4 separate regions of the Homo sapiens genome follow, and all the other regions are linked to region 1. The links come from fine-mapping of genetic effects on gene expression. A gene starts in region 1. Each other region holds a variant in brackets. All regions are shown on one strand. Distances are from middle to middle. Region 1 holds the start of EPHA1-AS1 (EPHA1 antisense RNA 1). Region 2 holds the start of TAS2R41 (taste 2 receptor member 41). Region 3 overlaps EPHA1-AS1 (EPHA1 antisense RNA 1). Region 4 overlaps EPHA1-AS1 (EPHA1 antisense RNA 1).

Region 1 (2,500 bases):
TCACCGAAGTGATTTGTGTTGAGAGTGCAGTAGGAAAAAACTGAGTTTGGTTTTTTGTACATCATAAGAGCTGCTCTCTGCATTTGAGTCTGAATATGCTCTCTCAGACCCACCTCACAACCTGTTCACTGAGTCTTAGGAACATCCAAGGAAGGAAGGGAACTGGAACAAGCTCTGACACTTTCAAACAGCTGGAATGCATGGTGTGCACGCAGTCAGCCTGAGGAGGTGTGGAGGATGAGCTAAGGGCTCAGAAACCTTTAGGGGAGCAGCTTTTAACTTCGGAGGAGTCAAAGACCCTTTGAAGAATTTGATGAAAGCTTTGGCTGGTCTCTCCAGAAAAAAAAATGCCCGCTTACATATACAGAATTTAGAGTACACTTTCATGGGGTTTCCCCACCCCCTGAAACCTATCAATGCAACTTCATTGGGATGAATGGATCTCAGATTGAGGATGCTTTTCTGCCTTTTCTATCCCTCCCCAAGCAAAGCACTGGTCTCAGCCTTCAACCATCCCCAGCATGGTGCATTCTCTCCCCGGGTATGTGAGCTCCTCTCCCCCTCACAAGTATCAGCTTGTATTCACAATATTCCCAAGTATTCACTGGAGGAGCCAGGCCATTCAAGCGTTCATCTTGAGGTGAAGTCTGACCCCCCCACCCCTTGTCCCATTGAGGAGGCTCTGACTCAGCCTCCTCTCCCCCTCCCTGAGGAGACACTTCCAGTTTTTCCTGCTCTTTTCTCTGTTCCTCCACCCACCTCTCCACCCCATTTCCCACTGGCCTTCAGGAGTTTTCCAAGATCCTTCCCTCTTCCGACACTTACCCCATCTTTTGGGGGATCCAGCAGCCAGCCCAGCTCTCCCTGTGCCTTGCTTGTGTCCATCAGAGTAACTGAAAGTGGGGAGAAAAGAAGTCTGTCACCTCTGGGGGAGGAGGTGCCCCTGCAGCCCACATTAATCATTCTGGGGCCTCAGCCCCAGGCTGCAACATCCTGTTCCTAAAAGCTGTGACTTCCTGAGGCTTAGGGGAGAAAAAGGGCTCAGGACTGAGGAGTGAAGAGCTCCAGGGATTTCACTCTTCTTTGTGTGTGTGAAGGAAGGCAGGTAGAGTGGGACAAGGGTTGGGGCGCTGGGTCTTTGACCAAAGTCAATGCAAGAAGAGCAGCCCCACGAGACGCTCAGTTACCCAGGCTGCTGCGTCCTGGGACACCCATCAGCTGCAGGATTGGAACGCGTGGAGGGCAGGAGGAGCTCACCTCTGCTAGCCAGGAGTGGGCAGGGTGGACCGGGGACCTCAGAAGGGGTTTCCTGGGTAGGGAGGCTCACCTCCACTGTCCGAAGCCTGCTTTGGCCTGACCTGGCCAGTGATCAGAGCCGTGAAGTGGGGATAAGAGGCACAGCTACCTGCCTGGGAAGTGGGGGGGAGTAAGGCCGGAGAGGGTGTTCCAACTTTCACATGGAATATTCGACTCGGACAACTGGGAACCCCTGTGGCGTCAGTCCTAACCCTTCTCCCGGAGGCAGCTCCCTCTGTCCCTGGCCTAGGTTGGCAGGAGGCGACTTCCCACCTTCAACTTCCAAGGGCTCAGATCTCTGGGGTGGGCACCTGAAGCTGGGACTGTCTGGGAATGCAGGCAGGGGTGCGGGTGCAGGTGCTACTTCCTGGCAAGGGTCCGGAATTCCCTCCCCACTCCCAGGAGCAGATTGCTGGCCTGCGGGAGTGGGGGTGACTGACCCGGGAGAGCAGCCGCTTGGGGTTAAAGACCAAAGATGGGCCTGGCCAGTCGATAGCCTGGCGGTCGGGCACAGCGAGAGAGCTGGCGAGGGTCTCGGGGAACATGGCCCCTAGGAATGCCGGCTTCTGCAGGGGGGTGCTGGCCGGGCCCCGGGAAGGGGCGGGGCGCGGGGGTTGGGGGCGCGGGGGCGGGGGTCGGTACCTTCCTTGGCGCGCGCCCCCGGGGGCAGCGGGGCGCAGAGCAGCAGCACCAGCCCTAGCCCCAGGGGCCAGCGCCGCTCCATAGCTCCGGGCCGGGACCTGGGACAGTGGCCCGGATGGCAGCGCCAGGTTGCAAGGGACTAGGAGAGCCGGGCGGGCCGGGCGGGGGCGGGGGGCGGGGCCAGCGCCGGGGGCGGAGTCCCGGCCTCACCTGGTTCACCTCCTTAAAGGGACAGTAGGGCAGGAAAGAAACTTGCTAGACTGGTAATCAAATTCAAGAACCGGAGGCGTCTTGACCCGAATGAGACTGCGGGCGCCGCCTAGTAGGTGGGATTAAGAATTGACGAACCTTTTCCCAATTCTAATCCTAAACTCAACCCAATCTTGATCCAGCTTTTAACCTAATTCTACCTCTGACTTGAATTACACTCCTATATTCCTCTTTCTGTCTTTGTGCAGGCCCCAGAGCTGGGTAATAGGGCCGGGGAAGGCAAGGGGTAAGAGTCATATCTTCACCCTCTAGCAGGGGAGGCTTAGATGACCACAATGCAAGGTGGGGTACA
Region 2 (2,745 bases), 70 kb after region 1:
GTGAGTGGCCATGCTGAAACAGCTTACCTGGCAGAGACTGTGAGAGGCCTCTAGGACCAGAGAGCAGTCTCCCACCAACACCCAGGAAGAAACAGGGGCTCTCAGTCCTGCTTCGGAAGGCCCCTCAACCACATGATAATGAATTCTCTCACTGGAAATACAAAACCCGTTTACACCATTATCATTTACATCTCAGGATTCATGGAGGATCTAAGTAGAGATCTGGATGGAGAGGTAGACGAAGTGTTTGATTTTGAAGCGATTTGTGGGCAAAGGCAGTAAGGTAAGCATGGATGTGTAACAGGGAAGTACTGAGACAGAATTCTTTGATGTCACTATTTTTCCTGTGTATCTCCTATACTTGTCTCTATATTTAAAGTCTTAAGAATGTTCTGATGGGAAGAGGAGTGTTCATACGGCCTGAGGATGGAACTCAGTCACAGAGACCCAGAAAAATCATAGACATTGATACTAACCATGGCAGCATGCAGGAAAACTGGACAAGGCAAATTAGGGTAATTTGCAGGCCTAGTGGTAACTGACACTAGGATAAATTTGCATCCTGTCTGAGCCAAGAGCACACCTCTCCTCTTTAGCCTGAGCATCCTCCTCTCTAAGTGAGCTCTGGTTCAGATGCAGAGCCTGACCACTCTTTAGCACTCCTAGGAAAGATTAAAAACAGGACTGTGGCTAGGGGCAGGGAGGAGGCCAGGGACCAAGGCACTCAAGTGGGGACTGCAGGAGGGGTCAGAATGCAAGCAGCACTGACGGCCTTCTTCGTGTTGCTCTTTAGCCTGCTGAGTCTTCTGGGGATTGCAGCGAATGGCTTCATTGTGCTGGTGCTGGGCAGGGAGTGGCTGCGATATGGCAGGTTGCTGCCCTTGGATATGATCCTCATTAGCTTGGGTGCCTCCCGCTTCTGCCTGCAGTTGGTTGGGACGGTGCACAACTTCTACTACTCTGCCCAGAAGGTCGAGTACTCTGGGGGTCTCGGCCGACAGTTCTTCCATCTACACTGGCACTTCCTGAACTCAGCCACCTTCTGGTTTTGCAGCTGGCTCAGTGTCCTGTTCTGTGTGAAGATTGCTAACATCACACACTCCACCTTCCTGTGGCTGAAGTGGAGGTTCC[C/T]AGGGTGGGTGCCCTGGCTCCTGTTGGGCTCTGTCCTGATCTCCTTCATCATAACCCTGCTGTTTTTTTGGGTGAACTACCCTGTATATCAAGAATTTTTAATTAGAAAATTTTCTGGGAACATGACCTACAAGTGGAATACAAGGATAGAAACATACTATTTCCCATCCCTGAAACTGGTCATCTGGTCAATTCCTTTTTCTGTTTTTCTGGTCTCAATTATGCTGTTAATTAATTCTCTGAGGAGGCATACTCAGAGAATGCAGCACAACGGGCACAGCCTGCAGGACCCCAGCACCCAGGCTCACACCAGAGCTCTGAAGTCCCTCATCTCCTTCCTCATTCTTTATGCTCTGTCCTTTCTGTCCCTGATCATTGATGCCGCAAAATTTATCTCCATGCAGAACGACTTTTACTGGCCATGGCAAATTGCAGTCTACCTGTGCATATCTGTCCATCCCTTCATCCTCATCTTCAGCAACCTCAAGCTTCGAAGCGTGTTCTCGCAGCTCCTGTTGTTGGCAAGGGGCTTCTGGGTGGCCTAGATGGCATGGTTTCCTTATCTAGACCCCCGGAAAAGAAAGGTGAGGATGGCAGAGCTGTGGCCCACTGACATGGAGGTGTTTTCATAGGTAGATGAATACTGGGTACTGTTATGGGGCTCCTCCTCTGGGAAGCGGAGGAGACAAGGAAATCTGGGAACTCTCTGAGCATGCTTCCCTTCTTTGGAATGTTATAAAGATGCAGTCCCATGGATCCCAGAGAGCCAGTATTGCCCAGAAGTTCAGAATATGTTAATATGATGTCGTGCTACTCCTTACGTTTGTACCCCTTTGTTATCTGGAAGGCTTCGATTAAAAGTGTTGATTAACTGTGCCATCGCATCTCCACTGCCTTTCAGAAAGTTAAGAGCAAATATTTGCCTCTATGGCTGAACTGAGATGTGGATAGTGAAGCGACAGCCTTCTTGAGGACAAATGTCATGGTTACTACGAGAGCCCCAAGGGACAGGCAGTTGTGGCAGGCAGTGGCCTGGGCTGTGAGTTCTGATTGCCCTTTACTGCATGAAGATACTTTGTCTCCACACAAACTTGGATAATCTGGTTTTAATTTTATTAAGTTTACTGGAAGGTTTCTTTACACCACCCAGTTTCTTTTCTCATTAACATTTCTGACTTCAATTTTCTCTTCTCTGAAGTCTGAGTAGTAGCCAGACTTTTTTCTTGTTTATCATTCCTTTAGAAAAAGACACATTGTGACTTTCTTGTCTTCCTCAAGCATATGTCACAGAGTCACATCTGCATTGAATAAACATGTACTTTTCAATCTGAAAAACAGACTCAGGAATTTCACTGGACTGGGAGTGGTGACGTCCGTAATCCCAACACTTTGGGAAGCTGAGTCAGGCAGACTGCTCGAGCTCAGGAGTTCAAGAGCAGCCTGGGCAAGATAGCGAGACCTCCTCTCCACTAAAAATTCAAAAAAATCAGCCAGGTGTGGTGGTGTGCACCTGTGGTCCCAGCTACTCGTGAGTCTGAGGTGGGAGGATCACTTGAGCTCAGGAGATAGAGGCTGCGGTGAGCTGTGATCACTGTACTCCAGCCTGGGCAACAG
Region 3 (2,745 bases), 29 kb after region 1:
GTGGGGCCCTATGCAGTGGCTCACACCTGTAATCCAAGCACTTTGGGAGGCCAAGGCGGGCAGATCACAAGGTCAAGAGATCAAGATCATCCTGGCCAACATGATGAAACCCCTTCTCTACTAAAAATCCAAAAATTAGCGGGGCATGGTGGCACATGCCTGTAGTCCCAGCTACTTGGGAGGCTGAGGCAGGAGAGTTGCTTGAACCCGGGAGGCAGAGGTTGCAGTGAGCCGAGATCACATCACCGCACTCCAGCCTGGCGACAGAGTGAGACTGTCAAAAAAAAAAAAAAAAAAAAAGACAAGGTGTTTCAGCAGGGTGGTTTTTACTATTATATATTCAGTATTGTTATAGGACAGGGCTCACTCCACATAAAGCAAAACTTCCCTGTGGCCCAGCTTTGCCCTGAGCTCCTCTTGTCATTCCACCAACTCTTGCTTCCCCCAGCTCCTATGGTGATGTCCCCTCTGGGTCAGTTTCCCTTCTCTGTCTTTCTCGTCTTCTCATTATGATTTATCTACTCTCTCTCATTTCCTCAGAGGCTTCTTAGGAACTGATTACTTTTGGTTGATCAAGCACTCTGGAGCCAAGGGGATAACAGTTAACAGATGATGGTAACATATCAGAGAAATCCACATTTTAACTGGAGATTCCATGAACTCCAATATGGAGCTTGACAGTGAAATTTTAGGCAGCATGAGAGGCCAGTGGTTAGGGGGCCTTTTCTTGGTAATGTGAAGCCTTGTGCATGCGAATGATTTTTCTGTTCCACCCATTCGGGAAGTGAGCTAAGGCAGTGTATAGAGGCTACTGAATAAAATATTAAGGCAGGACGTGAAGGGAAGGTTTTTGGTTTGGGGAGGGCAATAAGAGTAACAATGTCTTTTAAAGAAGAGTTAGGAAAGAAATAGTACAGTTAAGACATCATGTACAAAATGTGGGTATTTTCAGTCACCCCAGCAGCCTCTATTCTGTTAATGTTTCTCTGCATCTGGCTCTGAGAAAGGACAGGCAAATACAGGTTATGCAAATAGAGATGGTGTCATTGAGCTGGGAGTGATTTGCATGCCAAAGGAGATTGCAGAAATTATCTTTTCAAATTCTGGGGACTGGGGGTGTTTGCTGGTGGCTGGGATTTTCTATGAATCCAGGGACAAGGGCTTCTGAGTCTCTGGTGTCAACAAGGTGGCTTGACTCAGCCAGAGAGGCTGTTTTTCCCTGAAGATGTGTCCCAGCCCTCTGCAGTAGGAGCTGAGACTTAGCAGAACCTCCCTGGAGAAGATGCCCTCCTTGCCCA[C/T]GTTGATCTTCATAGCCATCTTTTGCCTGGAGTCATTGGCTGCAATGCTGCAGAATGGATTCTTGGTCACAATGCTGGGCAGGGAGTGGGTAAGGTGCCGGATGCTGTCCACAAGTGACATGATTGTGGCCTGTCTCGCTGCCTCCCGTTTCTGCCTGCATGGGGTAGCCATGGTGAACAACCTCCTGGCCTCCTTAGATTTTTCGCGTGCAGTTCCCTATATGAACATCTTCTGGGACCTTTTCAATGCCCTCACTTTGTGGTTTACTGCCTTGCTTGCTGCTTTCTACTGTGTGAAGATCTCATCTTTCTCCCACCCCACCTTCGCCTGGCTGAAGTGGAGGAACTCTCGGTTAGTGCCCAAGCTGATCAAGGGCTCCCTGATCATCTGTGGCCTGGAAGTCATCTCATCAGCCACTGGGAACATCCTGTTTGGTCAGAGGAAGGTCTCCCTGAGTTCCTACAGAAACGAAACTCTAGTTTATAGAGTGCAGGCTTCATTTCAGCTCTACTTTTTCCTTTATGAAGGGTTTGTGTGGTCGATTCTGTTCCTCCTGTTCCTAGTGTCCACTGTCTTGCTCATAGTCTCACTGTGCTGGCAGTTGGGGTAGATGAGGGACCTCAGGCCCGGCCCCTGTGATCCCAGCACCCAGGCTTACACTATGGCTTTAAAGTCACTCACCTTTTCCCTCATCTTCTGTACATTGTACTTCCTGTCCTTGTTTGCTTCTGCTTTGAAAATCATAAACTTTCAGAATCACTGGCACTGGGCCTGGTAAGTGCTAATCTATGCCAACATCTGTCTGCACTCTACCGTCCTGGTGCTGAGGAGCCCCAAACTGAAAAAGGGCCTGAAGACATGGCCTCAGCTCCAGTGCCCACGTGCTGCTGGCTCACAGGGCTTTGGAAGGTGCTGGCCATAGGGTGGTTCTGCTCCTGAGTTATCTGTGTCAGTAACCAGTCCTGGGATGAATGATCCTGGTAGGAATGTATAAGGTTTGGGTACTGTCTTTCTCTTTCCAGTTTCTTCTTTCTCTCCCCCTCTGTCCATGCCTCAGAATCCCTTTTCCATCTTGCTGTCTGTGTTCTTACCATCCCCTCCACTGCTGTGAGTCTCTAGTCCTAGCCGTCAATCACCTTGACTTTTGCTGGTGGCCTCATTTCCTCATGGGGCCCCAAGAATCTATAGGTAAGCAACCCTAATATTTGCCAAGCATCATTTTGGTCTGTATGCCCTTTATAGAGAACTGTAGCTGTCGTCAGTTGTCTCTGTGGGCAAACTGAAGCTTATTTTTTATATATTTTATTTTAATTTTAAGATGGAGTCTTGCTCTGTTGCCCAGGCTGGAGTGCAGTGGCGTGATCTCGGTTCACTGCAGCCTCCACCTCCCGTGTTCAAGCAATTCTCCTGCCTCAGCCTCCCGAGTAGCTGGGACTACAGGCGTGT
Region 4 (2,745 bases), 88 kb after region 1:
AATTGGCCAATATTGCAAGATAAAGGTTTACTTACCTGGAAGATTTGTCATTGTAATGACAATGGACTAGGGAACTGTTGTTTAACTTCATGCTCTTCCCCTTTGGGCAAGACCTGAAGAATCTTGGGTTTATCTTTGCTGCTTCCACTGCCCAGGTAAGCTCAGGACCTCACAGGGCCTGAAGCTTTCCCCACCTCAAGGTCTGTGGATGGAGAAAACTGCTAGAACTTCTGACTGAGAGTTGTAGCCAAAGGTTAAGGAGGAGAGCAGCAGTAAAAAGAAAACCAAGGGCACCATGAGGGGGAAGAAGAAGAAAATGACATCTGAGAGGTGGGACCCCTGATGCACTTCAAAGGCAGACTCGGTATGAGCTGACACAGATGACTCCAGTGTAAAGGAAAAGAACTGTTGGGAACCATCCTCCACACTACCTCCTACTCTCATCTAATAAGAATGTTTCCCTGCTGGTAAAAAAGAAAAATGCATCCTTCTTACTTTTCCAAGCACTAAGGTTACAGAAAATATGTAACTAGATTTTTTTTTTTACAAAGTAGGTTAGAAAATAGTAGGAAATATAATATATATACAGTTGGATGTATATAAAGATTGAAAAGTAGAAAAAGAACAGGCAAGATGACCATAAAATGTCAGTGGGTTAATCTCTGGGTGATAGGATTATAGATATTTTTGTTTTCTTATTTTTAGCTTATCAATATTGATATGGCTTGAATTTGTGTCCCTGCCCAAATCTCATGTCAAACTGTAATCCCCAGTGTTGGAGGAGGGGCCTGGTGGGAGGTGATTGGATCATGGGAGCAGATTTCCCTCTTGTTGTTTTCCAATAGTGAGTTAAGTTCTCACAAGATCTGGTTATTTGAAAGTGTGTGGCACCTCCCCGCTGTCTCTCTTCCTCCTGCTCTGGCCGTGTAAGATGTGCCTGCTTCCACTTCGCCTTCCACCATGATTATAAGTTTCCTGAGGCCTCCTCTCCATGCTTCCTGAACAGTCTGTGGAACTGTGAGTCAATTAAACCTCTTTTCTTAATAAATTACCCAGTCTCAGGTAGTTCTTTATAACAATGAGAGAACAAACTGTTACAAATATTTTTAAATGTTTATAATAAACACATATTTTTTCTCTCATAGGAATCCAAATGAAATTTAAAAAATTCACATATCTGATATAGACGTATCGCATTGAGATAGTGATATTAGGAAATGAATTTGCTGTCTTAATGCCTGGCACTACTGAATAGCCTTTGGGCAACATAAGTGAGCATTCAAGGAAAGATACAATTAAAACTGTATCTCAGCAAAGTAGATATAACTATAGGTTTTCGACTATTTATACCATAAAAAATAAATCTGGAAATATTCTATGGTGGCAAACACCCTGGACTAGAGGCAGGACAATGGGTTTTACTCCGGCTTTGGTACAAATTGCTCTATGACTTTTGACAAGTCACCTAATCTCCCTGGGTCTTAGTTTCTTTGTTTGTGAAACCAAATGGTGGAATTGGACCTCAAGGTCCTGCAGAAGTCTGTGTTTTTCAGTGTGTGCATTACAACATTTTCCTTTCATTCTAG[G/T]TACTAGATTCTGAGGTCTGAGACTAAAGTCATTCCATCATGAGTTCCAAACTGGACTTGAGAGGGGAAGAATCATTTCCTTTGAGATTGACCAATACCAGGAGTTTCACTAAAGAAGGCAATGAAAGACCCACAGCCTTGGACATAATTGATTTCCTGTGATATCTGTGTGGGCCCAGGCATGCTGCTCACCTGGGTCTTTCCCCTCTTTCACTCCTTTGGAACTGCCCCACCACTAACCACTTTCCTACTCTCTCCTTCCCCACCCCAGTATCTCCTTGCCTCAAGAGTTTCCTGTTACTAGCAATAATTTAGTTCACTCCCAGGGAACTACTATTTCTGGTTCTCAGTTACTAACCTTTCCATTCAGTTCTTTCCATTCCATTTTTACCAGAATTAACGTTTCCTCATCTTTCCCAGTGAATGTAAAAGGTACCTTCTGGGAAGCATTTTACCGGAACTGATGACTGCTATGCTTGACAGCAGCTTCAACAGCCTCGGATACAACTCATCATGAATTAGCTCTGGCATGACTGAGTTAGAATACTGTTCTGTTTCCTATCTCTACATGTAGGAAAAATTTAAAGTGGCATTTCTATGCTTTGGTCTTTTCTCATAAATGACTTAGGGGAAAACACTTAATGAGGATGAGTAACTAAAATTCAATGAATACTAAAAGCTTTATAAGAATCATCTAATTGAAACTTTACATAATTTCCTTATTATGTATTAACATTGAACGGGCATTATGCATTCCATTTCTAGAAAAGAAGTCTTTCCTTAATAAATTACAAGTGCAAACATGAAGTCCAGGACAATTTTTACTTCAAGATCAACTTGTCTATATGCTAGGATAATGAATTTGAATACTCTTTACTGATGTTCCCTGAAGACGTAGCTATTTTGTTTTCTATAATGATATTATTTTCTTGAGTCTCCATTCTGTTGGGTACTGTAGAAAGAAGACAAAAAGCAAACAATATAATATACCAATTAAAGGTATCTTAGTTTTTTTACAGTATAAATGGTCTCTGTTAACTTAAAATGATCTTTCCAGGTAAATATTTAATTAATTTGAAGTTCTACCTTATATCAGAGTGGTATATTTCTTTTTCTTCCTTATCAACAGGGCTTCTGGGCATAAGACAAAACCTGATAG

Evidence for each region. PIP is the estimated chance that this variant, and not a neighbour inherited with it, causes the effect. A credible set is the group of variants that fine-mapping cannot tell apart.
Region 2: its variant is the best candidate, but not a certain one, in a credible set for the expression of EPHA1-AS1 in whole blood (INTERVAL, PIP 0.70).
Region 3: its variant is the best candidate, but not a certain one, in a credible set for the expression of EPHA1-AS1 in whole blood (TOPMed, PIP 0.51).
Region 4: its variant is the best candidate, but not a certain one, in a credible set for the expression of EPHA1-AS1 in whole blood (INTERVAL, PIP 0.51).

Annotation. Positions count from the first base shown.
Region 1 is chr7:143,406,786-143,409,285 of GRCh38, forward strand. EPHA1-AS1 (EPHA1 antisense RNA 1) reads left to right here and starts at 1,028. Exons shown (of 5, transcript NR_033897.1): 1 at 1,028-1,101. It overlaps EPHA1 (EPH receptor A1), which reads right to left and starts at 2,071. Exons shown (of 18, transcript NM_005232.5): 1 at 1,939-2,071; 2 at 826-893. The coding sequence starts at 2,020. RefSeq lists an enhancer at 2,143-2,500.
Region 2 is chr7:143,477,121-143,479,865 of GRCh38, forward strand. TAS2R41 (taste 2 receptor member 41) reads left to right here and starts at 753. Exons shown (of 1, transcript NM_176883.2): 1 at 753-1,676. The coding sequence starts at 753. The coding sequence ends at 1,676. All of the region lies in intron 2 of EPHA1-AS1 (EPHA1 antisense RNA 1), which reads left to right. The variant C/T (reference allele first, on the strand shown) is at 1,132.
Region 3 is chr7:143,435,753-143,438,497 of GRCh38, forward strand. All of the region lies in intron 2 of EPHA1-AS1 (EPHA1 antisense RNA 1), which reads left to right. It also overlaps the pseudogene TAS2R62P. Among named protein-coding and RNA genes, the nearest start is that of TAS2R60, 6.3 kb to the right of the region's middle. The variant C/T (reference allele first, on the strand shown) is at 1,299.
Region 4 is chr7:143,494,380-143,497,124 of GRCh38, forward strand. The region is part of intron 2 of EPHA1-AS1 (EPHA1 antisense RNA 1); the gene reads left to right. LOC105375547 (a long non-coding RNA gene) reads left to right here. Exons shown (of 2, transcript XR_928075.3): 1 at 1-1,017; 2 at 1,587-2,393. Among named protein-coding and RNA genes, the nearest start is that of TAS2R41, 18 kb to the left of the region's middle. The variant G/T (reference allele first, on the strand shown) is at 1,587.